Homo sapiens: one gene and its partner. The protein of the gene in region 1 interacts with the protein of each later gene in a pairwise test. Each region holds a gene or a part of one and is shown in the gene's direction. Other genes may lie near its edges.

Region 1 (7,479 bases):
GTAAAACATGTGTTACTTACCTGTTCTATCAGTAAAATTTAAAATAAATGTTTATATGTATATATTCACCCACCTCTCTGAGAACTGGTTGTTAATCACCTACCAGCACACCACTGCTCCCACCTCCTGTTCTATCCCGATTTCTTTGTTCCTCCCCCACATTCTTCCTTGAAAGACATTGTCCTTCTCTTTATTTAATGGGATTCTCCAACCTCTCTCCTGTCTCAGAGCCTTTGCTGCTGTCTTTTCCTTACCCTGAAATGCTCCTTTTTTTCCTTCTCAACACCTTTCACTCCCAACACATCAGAGATCCTTCCATCTTAGCTAAAACATCACTTTCTTAGAGGAAGCCTTTCTAAACCCCTCTGACATGGTGAGGGCTCCCTGATAAATACAGTCGCAGAACCCTGTGCTTCTCCTTCATAACATGCTGTCACAAGAGAACTTATAAGATTGTCTGTGTAGTTTTTATTAATTGTCTGTCTCTCACACTAGGCTGTAAATTGCATGACTGCAGGAACCATATCATTTTGTTCACTGCTGATTTGCCAGTGCTTAACAGACTGTTTGGAAAATATTAGCTGCTCAGTAAATGCTTGTTCCTTTTCCCCTTCTTTCTTTCTGTGCTAGTTAGAATTAATCCCATGAATAGAGAGCACATTTTCTGTTTGTTATGATTAATGGAGAGTATTTTATGACACCCTGAACTTTTCCATCTTATCACATAACACAAGTGAATGTTATTCATTCTTTATATGATTTACTTTATTGTTATGGTTATTGCTGTTATTATTTTGCTGAGTGTCCCTTGTTCATGGGATGGTGAGCTTTCAGAGCTTGGGTTTTGGGTCTCTCCTACTCAGCACTAGCACATTGCCTGGGGCATCCAGTTATCAGGGACACAGTGGTGAACAAGATAGGTGTAATCATCTATTTATGTTCCATATAGTGAGAGAGACATGAAACATGTCCATGTATGCTAAGTGGTGCTCAGTGCTTAGTGCTACAGGGTAAAATAAAGCAAGGTAAGAATGAGAAGAGAGGCCAGGTGCGGTGGCTTACGCCTGTAATTCCAGCACTTTGGGAGGCTGAGGCGGGAAGATCGCTTGAGCTTAGGAGTTTGAGACAAGCCTGGGCAACATAGCGAAACTCCATCTCTACTAAATACAAAAAATTAGCTGGGTGTGGCGGCACGTGCATGTAGTCTCAGCTACTCGGGAGGCCGAGGCAGGAGAACCGCTTGAACCCGAAATGCTGAGGTTGCAGTGAGCCAAGATCATGCCACTGCTCTCCAGCCTAGGTGATAGAGCCAGACTGTGTCTCCAAAAACAAACAAACAAAAAAAGGAATGAGAAATGAGAAGTGATATCCTGTACTGGGAAGAGAAATGGCATTGTATTTGGTGTGTCCAGGAAAGGCCTCTCTGGTAAGGTGAGTAGAAACCTGTAGCATGCAATGGAAGGTCTCTGGGCAAAAATCAATCCAGGCTATGGAACAGAAAGTACAGGGGCCCTGGGGAGAGAATGTGCTTTATGAGTTCAGAGAACAACAAGGAGGCCTCATGACCGGCGTGAGTGATAGATGAAGTTAGAGCTATGTTGGGATGGGGTAGGATTCAGGGTCATTTAGATCCTTGGGGTCACTGTAAGAAGTTTGGCCATTACTCTGAGAGAGATGAAAGCCTGTGGGGGTTTTGAGCAAAAGAACGACATGATCCTTTGGTTTTGGTAGGATCACTCTGGCTGCCATGCTGGGAACAAATGACAGAGTGCAAGCATGGAAATAAGGAGGCCACTTAGGAGGCCATGGCACAAACCCAGGTGCAAGAAACCTGGCATGGACCAGAGAGATGACAGTGGAGGTGGTGGGAAGGTATCAGATTCAATACATATATTGTGAAGGTAAAACTTAAACATTTTCTAATGGATTGATTGTGTGGTGTGAAGAGAAGAAAAATAATTGTTGAAATTTTTGAATGGGCTCTTATGTCATACCCAGCACTATGTGCTACACCACTGGAGATCCAAAAGGATGGGAAATACATGCCACCCTCAGGGAGTATCCAGTCCAGTGGGCAAATACGATTGTCAGTGTGAAGGCCCAGAGAAAATAATAACAGCTAACCCCTACACAGCACTTTCTGTGTGTCAGGTACCAGCGCTTTGCATAGATTAATTCATTAAATCCTTGCAATAACCTCATGAAATACATAGTAATTATATCTTTATTTTACAGATGGGGAAACTGAGACAGATGTTAAGGAAAAGCCTAAGGTCTAAGGTCACACAGCTTGTAAGTGGCAGAGCTGGGATTTGAACCCAGCCGGTCCAGCGCCACAGTCTGTGTCTTCAGTCATTGTCTCCATCTCTGCTGGAGAGAATGAAATCACAGTACAGGCTCTTATCATCCAAGAAGAAATGGGCTTGGTGTCACATAGAAGTCACACAGGAGTCCCTCAGGCAGCCCAGAGCTGCAGAGTGCAGTAAGTGTCAGTGCAAACTCTCTTCAAAAGAAAATGTACAGGCCTGGGGTGACCCTCTTCCTTGTGCCGAAGGGGCTGGAGGATGCACCATAGTACATTGGGAACCCCCAGAAGTAGGTAGGAAGTAGGAGCCTGTAGGACCTACAAAAATGCTATTTTATAAGAGAAGCAAAATATAACATTTCTAACAGGTTTGAATGTAGATCTTCTACTAGCTGACCTTGTGACGGGAAACAAATGACACACATCACAGATGGGAAATGCACACATCACATACACACACACACACACACACACACACAGGTGCATGTGCAGCCATGCTGCTTTGGGAAGTTGTTTCTCAGCTCACTCATTGATTGCGTTAACAAAGAGTTACACAATGCTTTTTCTGTGAGAGGCACTGTGCTAAGACAAAGGGTAGATACAAAGACAAGTCTGCTACCATGCCTGGTTTTTGTAAAAGAGATAAAACAAGTAGAAAACTATAATATATAAGGTCAGAGGATTTAAGGGACAGCAAGGAAACTACAAATAAAAGATCAAGGGAGTTGGGTGGGGAGAATAGGGGCAGATGAGGAATGGGGCTGGCTTCAGGGAGAACTCTGCTTCTGTTCCACGCCTGGAAGATGTGTGGGTGTGAAAAGAAAGTAACTGAGGTAGAAGGAAGAGCTTGTGCAAAAGTGTGGAGGCGGGAGAGCTTGGTACAGGTTGGCAGAGGTTGGGATGTCTGAAGGGACAGAATGTGAGAAAATCCTAGAGACATTAGGGCTAGATCTTCAGGTGTGGAAGGGGTTCTAAATGTCAAGCATTTTGTGTTCGTTTTTTAGGCATAGAGAGTGCATTGGGGATTTTCGATGAGGGGAGTGCCTAGCAAGTTGCTGGGTACATAGTAGGCTGATAATCAATCAATGATGGTTCAACTAATGAAGGAGAGAAATAATAATTGCCACAAATTATTGGGTGATTGCTATCTGCCACACACTTTTCTAAACATTTTCACTACTCATGTAATTCTCACCACAGCCCATGAGATGGTTTCTCCATATCCATTCTACAGATGAGGAAACTGAGACTCAGAGAGGCTAAGTGTCTTGCTCAAGGCTGTGACTAAAGAGTGGGCATCTAACCAGAGCCTGTGCTTCCACACTGCTGTGCAATTTGGAAAACAGAAGAAGGGGAGAGAAGAAAAAGGGGTTGTGGGACCAATGTCATCCAGAAAGGAAGCTATGATAGGCCCAAAGTAGGAGAAGAACAATGTGGGTTGGAAATAAGAGACATTCCAAAGATGCAATCAACCCAAATCTGTTATTATTTGATATGGGTGGCTGGGCAGAGGGAAGGGTCAAAAAGGCTCCCAGCTTCTAGTTCAGTCCCGGGGAAGTGATAGAGCTATTCAAAGAAGTTGTAGTGAGAGAGAGGGAAGATGACAGTTTGGTTTTAGTTGATGTGTACAGAAATACGGGTGCCCAGGAGCCCACAAAACGGCCAGAGGAGAAATGCTTTCAAAGGCAAGCTGCAGGGCTCCTTGGTTTTGTCACATTCCTCATTCTGGGGCTTTGCGGTTTTGTCTTGGGAATCTCGAGGCTCTCCCAAGGTTCCTTTCTATGTTTATATCATTTAGCAGGGAAGGATTGTTAATGACTAATCTGTGTCCATGAGGCACAGAGCCAAGGAAGAGATGCTGCTGCTAGCCCAGAAGGCCGCCTGTGATCATGCACAGTACACTGGAACTCTCTCCTCCTCCTCACCTCATTGTCTCCCCGACTTATCCTAATGCGAAATTGGATTCTGAGCATTTGTAGCAAAATCGCTGGGATCTGGAGAGGAAGACTCAGTCCAGAATCCTCCCAGGGCCTTGAAAGTCCATCTCTGACCCAAAACAATCCAAGTAAGTACCTAATTCCTTTGGGAGTGGGTTGTGTATCTCACAGCAACAGAGAAAAAATAGTCACTTAAAAGTTTCTCTTTGACATCTGTAATGTATGTCAATAAATGAATTCTAAGTTAGTAGAGTTTGATGTAAAGTCCTGAAAATTAAAAAAGAGAGAAACTAAAAAACAAAAAGAAGCAGAAGCAAAAGTTAATGAGTCTTAACAGTTGCTTACCTATTGAAAACTTATTTAGAAATACTCTTTTAACATTGTGGTCACCTGAGTAAATCACTGGAGATAGTGCATTTCAGAAATGTCTCCGTTCTGATTCCATAAACAATTTGACTTGTATAGTGTGCTATATTTTGGTGATTTATCAAATCTTGATGTGAGTTTGGGAGTATTGCTAATGTCAGATGACTTGGGAACTAAGAATAAGACATTTAACCTATGCTTAATTGAAATGAAATTTTTCCCTAGAAGAAGAGTAGGTGGAAAAAGTCTTCTTTCTTGACTTCAGTTGTAAACTCTTCTATTGCTTTCCATTTTGAATATTAATATGACAGGAAATATCAGATGGAAATATTTTTAAAAGATAGAAATGTGAGTATGACGAAGAACTTTAGTAATAAAATTGTCCAAGGACTAAATTTATAGATAAGATACCTCTTTGTCTCCTTATTGACAGAGTGAATGGGGCAACTGTGGAGCCTGACTTACTTCTTTTAATTGGGTTTTTATTCAGAAGGGAGGGGCAGGAGGGAATGACAAGTGACTCACCTTGAATTCTTCCTCTAAGAAACTCACACCTGAGCTTTGAGCTATAAAGAAATCTGATGCTGTTTCTGGTGCTGTCTTAGAATCACTTCAGGAGTATTGACAAGAGGGGTAGGAACCCTTAGAAATAATATTAGTGATAAATAAGAAGGCAGGAAGAAACTTTTGGAGGTGATGGATAGGTTTATGGTATAGATTGTGGTGATGATTTAATGAGTGTATGCCTATCCCCAGACTCATCAAAGTGTATACATGGAATATGTAAAGCTTTTATATGTCAGTCACACCTCAGTAAAGTGGTTTACCTATCTATCTATCTATCTATCTATCTATCTATCTAAATTTTTTTTTCTGTTCCTAAAAAAAGGAAGGGAGAAGAGAGGAAAAGATGTTCAGGGAGCTACCATTTTGTTTCTAGCTGTGATTTTATAAAATGATAGACACTTTTATCTTTGTGTTACGTTCCTACCCCCAGTCCTCCAAATTATGGATCTGTGCCATTTGTACCGTGGACTTTTCTGTTTTCTGAGGATGTTGCAACAAATACTGATGCAACTCCTGGTTAACTGATAAAGTACTGGCCAGGGACAAAGCTCTCTTGTCCTGAGACCCTTCCTCAAGATTTGCAGCAATTTCCCACCACGTACCTCTGCCCTCTCCTCACAGCTGGAGAGGGAAAGTCATGGAATCCTTGTCCTTCCTCTTGTTTCCACCTCTTCAAGATTGGGCCAATTGCAATGGAATATCCATTGGTTGTGAGGCCTTTGTACTCTGCAAGGAAAAGAAAAGAAATGTGTGTATGTATGAGTGTGTGATGGAGCTAACTTTTCTACAATGTCTACTAACATGTCCTAGCCTTTACTTCATTCGCCTGTTTCCTTCTCACAAAAACCCTGTATGGGAGTTTTTCTTTACTTTTTATTATTATTTTTTTGAGACAAAGTCTCGCTCTGTCTCCCAGGCTGGAGTGCAGTGGCGCTATATCGGCTCACTGCAGCCTCCACCTCCCGGGTTCAAGCGATTCTCCTGCCTCAGCCTCCTGAGTAGCTGGTACTACAGGCGTGCACCACCATGCCACTATTTTTTGTATTTTTAGTAGAGACGGGGTTTCACTATGTTGGCCAGACTGGTCTCGAACTCTTGACCTCAGGTGATCCGCCCGCCTCGGCTTCCCAGAGTGCTAGGATTACAGGCGTGAGCCACTGCGCCCAGCCAGGAGTTTTTCTTATACTCATTTTACAGATGAGAAAACTGAGACTCAAAAAATACAAGTGACCCGTCCACAGGCAGATAGTTAGGAAGTAGCGGGACCTGAACTTGAGGGCGGGTCTTTCTGACTCCAAAGCCTCTTCCTGGCTACTCTGATATTGGCTATTGGCGGAGGCTGGGAAAACTTGAAATGGGGAATGATCGGGGAGCGGCGAGGGGGGACCAGCCGTTAAGCATTCCAGCCTGACAGGGGTGATTTGTTAAACCCAGGAACTAGTTAGACGTTTCCTGAAACCTCCTGCATAGGGCATTTTCGAGAGATTGCACCATCAGTAGGGAAACTGGAAAGTTTGGAGCACTATTTGTTTTAACCCAGAGACCAGTCTAAGATAGCTGGGTGAATATTTCCGTTATCAGCGTTTTAATTAAAGACCACAATGAACTCTCCATGCTGCTGTGATTAGGGACATCTTAGAGAGGAGCTCAGAACTGCTGTGGCTCACAGTCTCTGGATTATGAATGCCATGAGAATGCATATCATGATGTGATAGATTTTCAAAGGCTCACATTGTCATTAGGTGGGTGCATAAAGGACAGAAAAGGTTCTTTACTTCATAGAAAGAGATTTCCCTTCCCTTTGCTCTCAGTCTCATTTTTATCTTAGTCTCTAGCAACACAGATTATAAAGGGGAATAAAAGAAAATAGGAACAAGCTAGATACAGTGATGAGTGCCTGTGATCCCAGCAGCTCGGGCGGCTGAGGTGGAAGGATTGCTTGAGCTCAGGAGTTCAAGGCTGCAGTGAGCTATGATAATGCCACTATACTCTAGCCTGGGTAACATAGAGAGACACCACCTCAAAATTTTTTTTAAAAAATAAGAAATAGGAACAATTTTCCTCCCAGGTATTTTTTTATTGTCACAGTAGTTTCTACCAGTGAAGATGTAGCTAAAAGGCATCACCATACGAGTGTCCTTAGTCACCAAGCTGTATGAGGAGGCAAAAATCATTATTACATACAAATATTCATCCTTCTGTCTTTTCTCTCCCTTCTCTCACCCTGCTCTGGAATCCCCTAACCCCTTTGCTCTTCACAGTGAATTATTTTCTCCCTCAGTTTGCCCATTTCCAATTTTGGCC
Region 2 (7,502 bases), on another chromosome or scaffold:
CCAGTGCTCCACAAGCTGCAAACGCTTCCCTTTCATCCCCATCTCCTCCCCCACCCGTCTCCTCCTCGCTGCTCCTCTCCCAGCCCCTCCCTCCAGCTTCTGCAGTTGTCACTAACACAGTTAGCCACTTGATTAGTGACTCAGTGATTCAGAACCCAGGAACCTTGGTTCTCCTAAAACTTCCATGCTTCCCTCCCTAGAGTCAAGATAAAGGTTCTCCCCTCACCTGCCTGCCCAGATAGAGCCATTAACGTGAGAGGACTTGAGTATTCAGTTTGTTGGAGTTGCCCTGGCTTCTTCCCATTTCCTTTTTATGTGCCTTTTCCTGGGGCTTCTCAGGCTCTATTTACCTTTTCTCCAGAAAAGGTGGACAGAGAAGGTTTGAGCTTCGAATTTATGTAGCCCAACTCTTCATTTACAGATGGGAAAACGAAGGCCCCCCCCCCGGCCCCCGCAGAACTGAATTGCCCAGTTGCTTGGCTAGTTCTTGGTGGAACCAAAACAGACAAAGCAAAAACTCAATCAAACTGGCTAATTTGGTGGGAAAAAATCTTGTGAAGGAGTGAGCAGTGCCAAAACGAGACTTGATGATTATTTAAAAGGTCTTTCACTAATTTTATCCTTGTCATCCTGCTGGCGGTGTAAGCAAGTGATGGAAACCAGAGCCAGGCCAGCAACCATAAAGCCACCAGGGCTTCTGGAGAGGCTCTGATGCGACTTCCTACCGCTGAGGTCTCAGAGGCTCCTCCCTCCCAAATACATGGAGACCCAGAAGACTGCTTGGGCCCCTCCACTCCCTGCCAGCGGGCAGGATGAGGAGTCAGTAACAGCCAACAGTAGTGAATCCCACATAAGTTCCACATTCACTACTTGTTTCACAATTCGCTTAGCATGCATAGCAGCGAATTGACAGAATTGTTTCCCCTAAATGTAGGAAGGTGCATAAAATACAAGAAGCTTGTAAAAATATATTTATTGCAAAAGTTATATCAGTCTTGTATGTAAGCACCAGCCTTCTCCAGGGAAAGACAGGGGTGGTAGAATGAATAAAATTAACTCAGTATTTTGACTGCTTGCTGCAATGGAAGAGGGAATTATGTTTCCCAAGCTGGGTATGAAGAGAAGGAATATAGCCTTGGAGGCAATGGAAACTAAGCCAGAGCAGCTTAGAAAAGTCACCCCTCCTCCTGATTCAAGACCAAAGACAGGGAAAAAAAAGTCACTCTCAGTGTGAACATGAAAGCAAGTCTCACCCAGCCTAGATGTTGGATGTCCTGTGCGGTCCCGTTCCTCCCTGGTAGAGCTTGTTCTGTCTCACTGGGATCTGCCAAGTTAGGAGCTGAGCCACACTACTTCTGCTGCTGCTGTTGCTGCTGCACATTGTTTGTGATTAAGAGTTTTATTGATTTTCTAGCCCATGACCACATTGGTGGGGACAGAGTACGACAGGGGAAACTGGTGGAAAGCCAAGTAGAAAGAGAGTTTATGAAATCAGCTCTCAATGAAGAAAACTGTGGGAAAGAATGCGATGGAAGCAGATTTGGGGCCAGTCGATGTGGGAAAGTAGAACAACTCAAAAATGCTCTTCAGATTTGAACTGAAACAAAGCACTTTGCCAAAACATAGGAGGAGAATCCAGTCTGTGAGAAAGCCTCAGCACTGTTTATATAAAACAGAATATTCCTATCTGCAAAATCATTGCTGACAATGCTTAACCCACATTCTGTACCAGGCACTGTGTTGTGTTCTAGGACCATAAATAAGAATCAGTCCGTCTAGAGAAGGAGACTCGAAACATACACAACATGATTTGTAAAGATACAAGTGGATCTTAAGAGAGTCATAAAAACATTTTGCCCCAGCTTTGGGCCCAGAGCCAGCAGGAATGAATGGTGGGGGAAGAGGGATGGGACTGTGTCCCTGCTGCTGCCTGCCTCATGTGCAGATCTGGTGAAGGTTCTCTGTAGTTTGACCCCGCATCACTACTGACTTTGCTAGAAAGACCCTGCTCCCTTCCTGTCCCTGCCTCTTGTAGGTCCAGAGGACCCCTGCTTCACCGACGGCGGGGGCCGGGGTTGGGGGGTGCCGTAGGCAGGGTTTCAGGTGTTCTCAAGGTAGTAGGTAGAAAGGGAGCGCTTGACAGTTTGGGTGCTTAGTACAGGCTGGGAAAACCTCACAGCACCAAGGGGACAGTTGGACACTTGCAACATGATTCCTCCCCTCTCCTTCACTCCCACACGTACCCACCCACCATGAAACTGTGTCTTCTGTACGTCTTGAGAGATTTCTTCCAGCCTCCCAGCCCTGCCTCACTGCCTTTGAGTAAGAGAATAAAGTCTTTTTGCTGCTTCCTTCAGCTTTCAGCATTGTTTTTCACCCTGAAAATCAACTGGAAACTGGGGAAGACGAGTATCTGGTATGTTTTAGTGCACCAGTATAATATGCAAGGGAGGGGGTGATATGTAAAAAGGTTAAATGAGAAAAAATATCATATAATTCAAAACCAGTGAGTGACCGAGCTCAGTAAATGATGGCTTTTTAAAAATCAGATATAAAATCCTGTTTCTGTGGTTCATGTTTGAAAATGATGTAACCTAAAGTGGCTCTTTCATCTTCCACTGCACGTACACCTTCTCTGTTTAGCCTTGGACTCCCAGTATCTGCACTGGAGGACTTTAAGGAGGTCAAACCTAAGCCAAGAGACTTCAGAGAGGTATAGACTAAGCTAGAGGGTGTCTTGCTTGAGCCAAAGAACCTCAGAGTGCTCTAGCCTAAGCCCCAAGGACCTTATGTCAATGTAGACTAAGCCTCTAATCTGGAGGAATTCAGGCTGGCTGGCTGGGCTCCCAAGACACCTCTGCAGGTGAGCAGCACCAGGACTCAAGTCTCCTAACTTCTGGTCCAGGACCCTCCCCTTTCTAAAACAGTCAAAGGGGCTGAAATTCCTGGAAGTGTGTGGGGCTAATGTCCCTAGCATTGTTCTCTTTTTCATAGAGGAAAAGCTGACTTTAAGAAACAAGCCGGCAATACTTGACAAAAATATCTACCATTTAAGCACAGAGCCAAAAGCAAGGAGTAGTCTCCTGGGCGCTGGAAGTATTTTGAAATCCCCAAAGTCTCATTCATTGATCAGAAAACAAAATGGAATTACTTTTTTTTTGCTCCCTCCTCCCCTCCATGCAGTAGCTGTTCTTGGCGGGTGCCCAGAGCGGCACCCGGTAATTCCACGGTACATTGTGTACATTTACATCTGTTTAATCGGCTATTTACAGTCGCCCTTTACCGCCACCTGTAAGAGGCAGCGCCATAACGACACTAAGTGGCCGGGCCGGAAGCCGGGTGCCCAATGGTTTTCTCCACTTGAGGACGCCTGAATCTGTGAAGTGGTTGGCACTTGGAGAAACAGAGAGACAGCTGGGGACATCACACGTACAGGGCGGGAGGCGCGGGAAAGAGGCGCGCCAGACGGAGGGTCCTTCCTTCCTCGTTAGCTCCACTCGGCGGCTCCTTTTCCATTACCACAGCAGCAAGGAGGAACCTGCCGAGCCTTCGGTGCGGCTTGTTTCCTGCCTGACAGAGAGCCCGCTGCCATTTGGATTTGATGAATTTCTGAATCACCCGAGGGCCTGGCGACCCGAAGGAGGGCGGGGAGTGGGGGCGCTGGGGTGGACCCGCCATCCTGCGGAATCCGGGCCAGATAACAGCCCCCGAGCTGGGGAAATCGGCTTGCGGATGTGATGCGGGACCGCGAGGACACCTGCGCTCCCTTGCGTGTCGCACTCGTGCAGCTCCCGGTGGCGACGGGGTGATGTGGGGGCGAGGGTGAGAGGAAGTCCAGGCGCCAGAGCGTCAGAAACGCTTCCTTAGCTTCCCTGGCACTTTGGAGGTTGTCTCGAGGGAACACGGACAGTGCACGACGGACTTTCAAGTTGCTCCCGGCACAACGGGAGGTCGGGAGCTCGGAGCCCCTACGGGCGGTCCAAGTGTCCGCGAGAAGCCCGCAGCGCCCAGGACCGCGTTGAGCGCTCGGGGCGCGCCAAGCCGCACCTAAGCAAAAGAGAAACGCTGACGGGCCGGAGGCGGGTTGGCTGGGACGCGGAATACGCGCGGCCCCGGAGCGCCTTTCGTTTTAAGGAGCCTTACTTCTGGAAAGGGACAGGGAACTGTCAATCAGCGAGGGAGGGAGCGCACCGGCGCTGGGTGATGTCAGCGGATCAGCTGCTCGATAACAAAGAGAGGGTATTACAGGAGAAAGTTGCAGCAGCGGCAGCGGCCAAGGCGGCACACCGGAGCCTCCGAGGCGAGGGGCAAGTGGGCGAAGGGAGGGGGGACGACGGCTGCTGCCGCAGCAGCTGAAGGCCAAGGAATTGAAAGGGCTGTAGGGGGAGGCAGTGCGAGCCAGCCCCGACTGCTCCTCCTCTTCCTCCTCCTCCTCCAAACTCGCGAGCCCCAGAGCTCGCTCAGCCGCCGGGAGCACCCAGAGGGACGGGAGGCAGCCGCGCAGCCCCGAGCTGGGCAGTGTCCCCAGCCGCCATGGATAGCGACGACGAGATGGTGGAGGAGGCGGTGGAAGGTACAAGCATTTCTCCGGGGCCGGGGGAGGAGGCGCAGAGGGCCTGGAGCGCGGAAGGAGTGGCGGGCTGCGAACAGCGCGGCGCCGGGCCCCGCGGCCGCCACTGTCCCCTACACGGGTGGCCGGTTGCCCGGCTCGGGCGGGGGCCCGACAGCCACGGTCACGCCGCCGGGAGCGCGCACTGCGCGGCGGGGCGCAGGCCGAGAATGGGGCTCCGCCAGGCCGGGGGCGCTGGAAACGCACGGCCGCTCCATCCCGCCCGGCCACAGCCTGCATCCACCCTCGGAGTTGCGAAACCTGCCCCGCGCTCTGGCCTTTCCGCCTTTGGGCGCGGAGGGTGGGTGCACTCCGCAGGGCAGCCCCTTGAGGCCGGCGGACTCCGCGGAGCAATCCCCTAGCCCAGTTTTGGCCACCCCGATCCCCTCCCGGCCGCCAGCCCTTCCCTTCTGCTGCCTCTGCGCCCCGCGGCGGCCGCGGCCCCGTCCGGGTAGGTCCCCCGGCGCAGCGCACGGGGCCAGACCAGGCACGTGGCAGCCGCGGCCCAGGCGGCAGCTCTTCCGAAAAGATGAAATCATTGTCGGGCGACGGACAAGTCTCCCGACCCGGGACTCGAACGTGCGCCGTCCGGGAGGCGGGCAGCCCTCCCCTCAGCTGCCCCCGAGCGAACTCAGTCAGGCCTCCCCCTCCCCCTTCCTGCTTGGCTGGGATGCAGCCGCCACGCTGTGCAGGCGCGCCGCGAGTCCGCACCGAGATTGCTGGGTGACACTTAACTTTCTGAATTCCATGCCGTTGGCTGTGGGTGATATCACCGCCTCAGTGTCGTGTTTCTCCGCCCCTTCTCTTCTACCGCCCCTCCCCCGACTTTTCTCGCCACTTTGTTTTGCTGAGTTTCTCCACCTTTTTTTTTTTTTTTTTGTTAGTTCTGAAAAAACGATGTGGGGACGTTATACAATCTCGTTGTTTGTATCATAGGATGTTATGATTTTGTAACAGCGAATACTGGAAAATACTCTTTAGCGTATTTATTTGGTTCCACTCCATACAGTACGTCGTGATGTTTTTCAGTGTGGTGTGGTATGATACCAGAATGTTTTAAACTAAGCATGTGAGTAAATAATTTTTAGCTGTTGGTTGAATCTGGTTTCTGTCTGATTTGTATAAACACAAGTTCTGACGAAGGATAAAGAAAAAAAGTGGCGACACTACAAATGCATAAGGATACATGGTTATTGTTACACTAGGGAAAAATCAGTTTTAATGTTTTCATAAACATAACTCCCTTTGCAGTGCTTCTGAGATCTTAAGGGGAGATTAAGCAGACTAATATTTCTGAACTCTTGAAAAGTATCCAATGTAATGCCAATATTAAAACTTATTTCTTCATCTAACTTCGAAGCCAATTAAAGACTGTGGTTTTTGTTAAGAAAATTTTCACCATGTTGTGAACTCACAGAGCTATTTATCTCTCTAATAAATAAAGCCAATGTTGGGGCTTACTGGAGTGAGGCCCAGATACATTGATTGAGTTGATCCACAGGGAGCCTTCTGAGAAGTTAAAAGTTGTTGACTTCTTGTGCCTCCATGTTGTGAAAGATAAAGGAAAAATGATCTCAGATTGTTAGGGCTTGCTCTCTTTCTTCAACGTTTACTTTTACTTGTAAAAATTAAATACAAACCCTTAATTGCTGGTACTGTTCTCCATGTTAAACCACATCCATTCCCCTTTGAAGCTGTTTACAAACATATGTCCAGTTGTCCATAGTCCTCAGGCTCCTTTGCAGACTGTGACCAAGAGCTTTAGAAATGGCAGTATTGTTTTTTGAGAACATCCACTGGATTCGAAAACAGGGAAGTTCATATAAACAGGGATGGTTTTGTTTTATAGGGTAATTATGTACATTATTGTCCAAAATCAGAACCCCCTTGAGAATGAGAGGGCACACTATTAATAATGATGCTGGGGCAGGTAGCTTAAGCCTTGAATGTCTGGGGCAATCTGGGACACATGGTCACTCAGTTGTAGCTAACTAAACAATTAGAGCAGCACAGAATCTTTAAAAGCCCCTAGAAGCATCTCAGGCTCTAACTTGCACAGTGCCAGGAGTGTGTGTGTGCACATGCAGTAAACCGTACCTGTGCGTGCACTCTTGTCCAGCCATTCTTGGCCTTTTTAGTGCTGTTTGCAATAGTCTTTACATAACATCTAACACTTACATAGGGGACTGGTATAAACTGCTTCTGTTCTTTCCCAAAGAGAAGCTAGTCTGAATATCTTAGTGTTTAAGTACCAACTAATCTACCTCTTTCCATAAACAGAGCCTCTGTTCTCAGTAGTTTCATTGTCATAGCTATTATTATCATTGCTATAATTGTTTAGTTCTTATTAAGTGCAGGCTCTGTGCTAAGTGTTTCACAGACATTATCCATTCAGTCTTATTCAGTCTTATGAGGTGGGTACTAATATTATCCTAATTTTACAGAGGCGGGAACTGAGGCATACAGAAGTTAAGGACTAATCCAAGAACACTCAGTGAGGTGGAGAGACTGGCTTGGACTTCCAAAACAGCCCTCCACCAGACCAAACTGTCTTCCTACATTTTTTATTTTTAATGAGTTAGTCAAATTTATGAAACACTTGATAACTGAGTTTGGAAGCAACAGTTAAATATTATGTCAGTGCCATTTTTTATCAGTGTAACTCTGTAGAGGTTGGTTCTGACAGAGTTCAGTGACTTTCAGAAAAATGTATTTGGGGAGAAAGAACCTGTGTCCTCTGCAATAGCTATCTTTTTTCTTCTTCATTAGAGATTTACTCTGGGGAAGAAATTAGTCTCTTCAGGATTGAGTTTAAATGTCTTATATATCATGTGCATTTGGTTCTCTGTCAGGGTATGATTGTAACTCTGGGAAAGTTCTGAACTCAGAGTGG

What was found. The genes of interacting proteins can lie anywhere in the genome.
Region 2: the proteins of NR1H4 (region 1) and SETD7 interact in binary tests that used the Homo sapiens proteins (3 or more experiments, as listed by UniProt).

The regions. Positions count from the first base shown.
Region 1 is NC_000012.12:100,469,690-100,477,168, forward strand, and holds the start of NR1H4 (bile acid receptor), read left to right. Parts: upstream 1-4,176; 5' UTR 4,177-4,370; intron 4,371-7,479. UniProt on the Homo sapiens protein: Ligand-activated transcription factor. Receptor for bile acids (BAs) such as chenodeoxycholic acid (CDCA), lithocholic acid, deoxycholic acid (DCA) and allocholic acid (ACA).
Region 2 is NC_000004.12:139,553,169-139,560,670, reverse strand, and holds the start of SETD7 (histone-lysine N-methyltransferase SETD7), read left to right. Parts: upstream 1-4,451; 5' UTR 4,452-4,533; coding exon 4,534-4,573; intron 4,574-7,502. UniProt on the Homo sapiens protein: Histone methyltransferase that specifically monomethylates 'Lys-4' of histone H3. H3 'Lys-4' methylation represents a specific tag for epigenetic transcriptional activation.